2 separate regions of the Homo sapiens genome follow, and region 2 is linked to region 1. Evidence: fine-mapped expression QTL. Tissue or cell type: prefrontal cortex. Region 1 holds a variant in brackets; the other region holds the start of a gene. All regions are shown on one strand. Distances are from middle to middle.

Region 1 (2,906 bases):
TTTCTGCACTGTTACTCCCCAGACCCATGGCTTATATACCATAGAGAAAGGGTGCACACACTCCAGCAGGACAATGCAAGGCAACCCTCCGGAAGAGGCAAGAATGCTACATGCGTCATAGCCTATAATTTGTGCGATAACATCAGGGTTGCTTTGTTCTTACACTAGAGACAAACAAGGTAGGAATCAGGAGGCACTCAGGACTGGGGCTACTCATAAGTTAACATGGCGGGTTAGCATCCGCGATGGAGTCGCTCTTGTCTCCACAGCGGTTAACACCATTGCCATGTCTCATTGAGTTCTCGGCTTTCAGAACAATGCCACCCAGGCTCCTGTCTGAATCTGGCTCCCAAATCTAGGCTGTGCTATGTCTGCTCTGCCCCCTAGTTGGGGCTCCTGACCTGGCCCCTGAACGAGGAATGCACTCCTCTGCCGACCTTCTTATGCCGGTTCCGGGGTGCCCCTTCCAGAGAGCTCAGTGACTCTGCTCCACCCACAAACATGCGACCTTCTCCCCAAGGCTGCTTCTACCTTTCCTTAAAGCTAAAATTGGCCAGGCATGGTGATTCACACTTGTAATCCCAGCACTTTGGAAGGCTAAGGTGGGAGAATTGTTTGAGGCCAGGGGTTCAAGACCAACCTGGACAACATAGTGAGAGCCTATGTCTACAAAGAAAATTTTTTAGAAAGCTAGCTGGGCGTGGTGGTACCCACCTACAGTCCTAGTTACTTGGGAGGCTGAGGCAGGAGGATAGCTTGAGCCCAGAAGTTTGAAGTCATAGTGAACACCACTGTACTCTAGCCTGGGTGACAGAGTGAGACCTTGTCTCTTTAAAAAACAACAACAAAAAAAGCTAAGATCTTGGTCTCTTGGTAGCTTTAGGTGCTGGGACTCTTGGGTTGATGTCTGTCTGGCAGGATGGTGGTGAAGCTATTACTCCAGAAGCCTTTCCTTCTGAGCTCCCAGCCCTAGCAATCCCTCTTAGGTCCCCTGTTCCCCACCATTTAGATGCCAGCCCACATGACCTTCCTATATTCCACTGCTACACTGGAGCTAACAAGCACAAATACGTATCAACTATCACCAAGAATTGAGAAACTGTTCTCTCAGAGCACCTCCAGAAGAAGTGAGCTAAATGCTAGATGATGCCTCCAATTCCCATCTCTAGATGTAGGTTCAACAGAGTTCCACTTCCACATGTTCCATCATTTATTGGAAATTTCCATCAGGCTCATTCATCAGCGCCTTAGCATCCATTACCCAACTTGCCCCCAAGCTAACGTGTCAGCCTACT[A/G]TTGCCAGGTAGCTGGAATCCATTGGTCCAACCATGGGCTTTGGGGTTCAAATTCTGGTCCTGTCATCTATTAGCTGGAAGACCTGAGTTAAGTCGTTTAACTGGAACTGCTTTTTCTGTGACATTGGAAGGAGTGTTTTGTAGCTCCCTCTCATGGTTGATAGGAGGAACTAATAAAATTGCATCTGTAAACCATCTAGCATTTTGCCTGACATATAGTAAGAATGTTAAAATTAATATAGATATACAGATATACTCCCTTTCCTATGCAAACTGGTGCTCTATACCAGCTCTCCAATATCCTTCGGTGACACCATCATTTCTAGAAAAGTAGATTATCTTGGATCCATGTGACAGACTTCATTCACATCATAAATTAATAAATTCACTTTCTGGTTTTAGGCATTAGTCTCTCAAGCCTGATCAATATGCTTTTGCCACTAGGACAAGGATCTGTTTCTGGTTGGGCAGAAAATGAGTTTTCTGCACCCAAAAGGCTGAGGGTCAGAGAAAATTATCCCAGTCTATGGCTGTTCCCGGAGAAAACTCCCAGGAGACAGCATGCTCATCACCCCCACAACTGGTCACCTCTATATCAGATACCCCTGGATTTGCCATCTCTCTTTCCATTTGGAACTGTTCTACGCTGGGCTCAGAGTTTCACATCTAGTAGGTGTTTAGGACCTATTTGTTTTGTCAGTGTGTGAGTGGGTGGGTGGATGGTTGAGTGGGTCACCGGAAATTCGTACCTCTTTTTGAGGCAGGGAAGGAGCAGTGGTGGCCTAGCAACCAGGGAATCTGCCTAGCAACGAGGGTGGGAGGCAGAGGCTGCTGGAATAGTTTAGAATGGCTAACAAATAGGCAGATGTAAAAGAGACCTTTCTGGATCTTGTCAAGTTGGGGTCTCAGGCCAAAAGGAGAAAGGAGACCCACAGGGATCAGGAAAGAAGTGTGGGAGGAAGGGCTGTATTTGAAAATGTTACAAACTCAAACTGGAAAAAGCCTCACGCCTTTTCTACATGTGCTCAAGCAGAAGGCACCCCTCCCCATTCTCACCCCGAGGAAGGTGATACCTCAGAGTAGACACATTTGAAGAGCATACCACCTTTTCTGCACTCCAATTTGCAAGGGTACAACATTTTAACATGTTCTATCAAGTCTGGAATTTTTATCAACTCAGAAAGCTACAACCCCCTGGAAAGGATGAAGACCTATATTCGCTTAAAATGAACCCAGAGGCAGATTAAGCGACTTTCCAATACGGTCTGTCTAGGGCAAAGGAACCATTAGGAACTCGGGACTGGTCTGACTTGAATTGTTTCCCTCTCTCCTTCCTTTCCACCCCGTCACAGGACAGGGCTTGGACATCCCCTCCTGTGAACTCTCAAGACCCTCCCCTGAAGAGAGGAAAAATTGTCATCAGCCTTTGACCTGATTAATAATTAAAACTGCTGAGTTTGAACTGCCCCTAACAGTGAGGTGCTCCAAAACCCCAGCAAACTTTAACAAATAACCAGCTTGCTCAGGGGAGAGAGGAAGCTTTATTCACTAGACAAACTGACAATTAGCTGCTATTCAAATCCCCCTCTAGTCCTAGCATATTGGTTCTCC
Region 2 (2,906 bases), 98 kb after region 1:
GGCCTTTGATACTAACCACCTGACAGTTGTTATATGTTCTGCGTCTAGTTTTAAAATAATGAAAACTGAGGCTTGTGCTTAACATATGCACACATTTTGAAGACAGACCTGAAATGTGACCTTGGATAAGTTTATTAACCTGTTTTATAAATCTGTATTCACACAGATATAAAGTGCCTAGCCCATCACAGCAGAGCTCTCCGTAGCTCAGTGGTTGTTCCAATAAGACATCAGGGATTCTTCAGAAGCCAGCCTTCAGACCTCTCACTGTGTTTTGAGATCATTATTATCAATTTGGATTTAAAAAACAAGGGCCCTGTAAAACCCTTGAAGTCTTCCTCATCTCAGGTTTTAGGGATGCCACTTGCATAAAAATGAGTGGTTCACAAGGTCACTGCCCCCAGAAGCAGGCACTGGAAAGAAACAGGCAGCTCTTCATTATCCCAAGCAGAACCTCTGTCAACTTGCCCATTGATGGGTTCCATTTGCCTGGGCTTGGAATCCCAAAGGGGAAGAACCACCTTTACCGGAGTAACAGTCCAAAGCCTGGGGCTGCAGTTGGTGGGGCAACTCTTCACTGTGCTTGCACCTGGGCTGGGGCAGGATCCTGAACCTCTCGGGGGCGTAGCCCGCGGAACGTGGTCGGCTTGTTGGTGAAGGGGTGCCACTGGCCCTGGATGCTAGGGTTGTCGGTGTGGAAGGGCTTGCGGATGCGGATCACGTCCAAGCCCGACTGGTCGGCCAGCTTCTGCACCAGCGTCGAGATCTCCTCGACCGACTTGCAGTGGATGCTCTCCTCGCGCACAGCCCCGTTAACTGGCAGAAGAGGGGTGAGAGTGGGTGGAAGCTGGCCGGTGCGACCAAGCGAGAAGGAGGATAGCGGGTCGAGCCCCTGATCCCGCCCTCCAGCCCGAGCCCGGCCCCACTCACGGTATTCGGCCACTACTCTGGGCACGCAGCACGGACGCGAGTTTACATATATTACGACCCCTGGATTCCGTCGGGCGAAGTCGATCACCTCCCGCTCCACGAACTCCCTAAGCGACCCGGGACAGTGAGCAGTATGACCCCTGACTGGGGGCGACCTACCCGGGGAGTCGTTGCCACCTCCACACCCACCCCGACCCGCGCCTGCGCACTTCCCTTGGCTCACCTGGCGCCGCGAGACGAGGCGCCGTCGCGGCTGACGCTGAAGCTCAGACGCTGCAGCTGCTGCACATAGCGACCCAGTCCGTTGTGGAGAACGCTGGCCAAGAAGCGGCTCGGAGTCCCGCGCGCCGTCATAGCTACAGCTTGGAGGCCGCGGAGCCTAAGCAGCGAGGAGAGGGGGGCGGGACTAAACCTCGAGGCTTCCGGTTCCGGGACGACCGCTCCCGGAGTTTTGCTTCCGAGGTCAAGGCGAGTAGCATGTGCGGGAGACTCACGTTGCCGGCGAAGTGGGAGAGAGAAAAGTGGTAACCTGGGGCTGGGGGCCGGCGCGGCGGAGCTCGGAGTAGTAGAGCGGAGTGAAGACACGGGGGAGGATAGAGACTGGCATTCCTTTGGGCCGGGGGATTGGCGGGAGTCGTGCTGGGTGCTCTCGCCGTGTTGAGGTCCCAGTGAGGGGAAGGAGAAGCGGAAGAGGGTCTCTAGTCGGGGCCTAGGGCAAAGGGACTACAAAAAGGATGCAGATGACTATAGAAATGAGGACGACGAGGAGATGCTGTGGAGGAGCAGTAGAGGTGAGAAGATGATGCAAAGAAACTGTGTCAGTGAGGAACTGTATAGAGGGTCATAGAGGTGAGGTGGCGGAGAGAAACTAACTAACGGACCATAGAGGTGGGGGAGCCATTGTAGAAGGACGTGGACGCGAAAGGGTCGTGTAGATGGGCATATGTGTGAAGCAGCAACGTAGAGGGGCTGAAGAGGAGAAATTCATGGAGAGAAAGAATGCACCTAGAGTGAGCTCTGCAGAGTGCTGCGTGGGATATCCCTAGAGTTTGGTCTAGTGAAGGCACGCTAACCAGGCACCTAAGGCATTTCAAGTAGTGACTTCCCACATTTGGCTAGGAATGTGGGTCCTCCTCCGAAGTGGGTACCCCCTCCGTATCTTGTTACCCCTGCGTGGGGAGTGGATGGGTCGGAGGGGCCTGCCCCGAAACTTGGCCCCAGGCCCTCCTCGCAGACGTTACAGGAAGGAGACTCTCCAAGCCTTGGATATGCCAGTGTTGCCTGTAACTGCAACTGAAATCCGCCAGTATTTGCGGGGGCATGGGATCCCCTTCCAGGATGGTCACAGTTGCCTGCGGGCACTGAGCCCCTTTGCAGAGTCTTCACAGCTCAAAGGCCAGACTGGTGTTACCACTTCCTTCAGCCTCTTCATTGACAAGACCACAGGCCACTTTCTCTGCATGACCAGCCTAGCAGAAGGGAGCTGGGAAGACTTCCAGGCCAGCGTGGAGGGGCGAGGGGATGGGGCCAGGGAGGGGTTTCTGCTTAGCAAGGCACCAGAATTTGAGGACAGCGAGGAGGTCCGGAGGATCTGGAACCGAGCAATACCTCTCTGGGAGCTGCCTGATCAGGAGGAGGTTCAGCTGGCTGATACAATGTTTGGCCTTACCAAGGTTACAGATGACACACTCAAGCGTTTCAGTGTGCGATATCTGCGACCTGCTCGCAGTCTTGTCTTCCCTTGGTTCTCCCCTGGGGGCTCAGGATTACGAGGCCTGAAGCTCCTAGAGGCTAAATGCCAGGGGGATGGAGTGAGCTACGAGGAAACCACTATTCCCCGACCCAGCGCCTACCACAATCTGTTTGGATTACCACTGATTAGTCGTCGAGATGCTGAGGTGGTACTGACGAGTCGTGAGCTTGACAGCCTGGCCTTGAACCAGTCCACGGGGCTGCCTACCCTTACTCTACCCCGA

Direction of the effects. Positions count from the first base shown, and alleles are read on the strand shown. Sizes are in standard deviations (SD) of each study's normalised expression.
In carriers of allele G in region 1, the expression in prefrontal cortex of the gene that starts at base 1,338 in region 2 tends to be higher than with A alone (small effect, 0.29 SD a copy in GTEx).

The links. PIP is the estimated chance that this variant, and not a neighbour inherited with it, causes the effect. A credible set is the group of variants that fine-mapping cannot tell apart.
Region 2: MRPL43 starts here. The variant in region 1 is the best candidate, but not a certain one, in a credible set for the expression of MRPL43 in prefrontal cortex (GTEx, PIP 0.68).

The regions. Positions count from the first base shown.
Region 1 is chr10:100,887,713-100,890,618 of GRCh38, forward strand. No RefSeq gene overlaps it. Among named protein-coding and RNA genes, the nearest start is that of SLF2, 24 kb to the right of the region's middle. RefSeq lists an enhancer at 2,276-2,906. The variant A/G (reference allele first, on the strand shown) is at 1,296.
Region 2 is chr10:100,986,160-100,989,065 of GRCh38, forward strand. MRPL43 (mitochondrial ribosomal protein L43) reads right to left here and starts at 1,338. Exons shown (of 3, transcript NM_032112.3): 1 at 1,154-1,338; 2 at 931-1,037; 3 at 110-816. The coding sequence starts at 1,284. The coding sequence ends at 575. TWNK (twinkle mtDNA helicase) reads left to right here and starts at 1,384. Exons shown (of 5, transcript NM_021830.5): 1 at 1,384-2,906. The coding sequence starts at 2,052. RefSeq lists an enhancer at 1,097-1,166.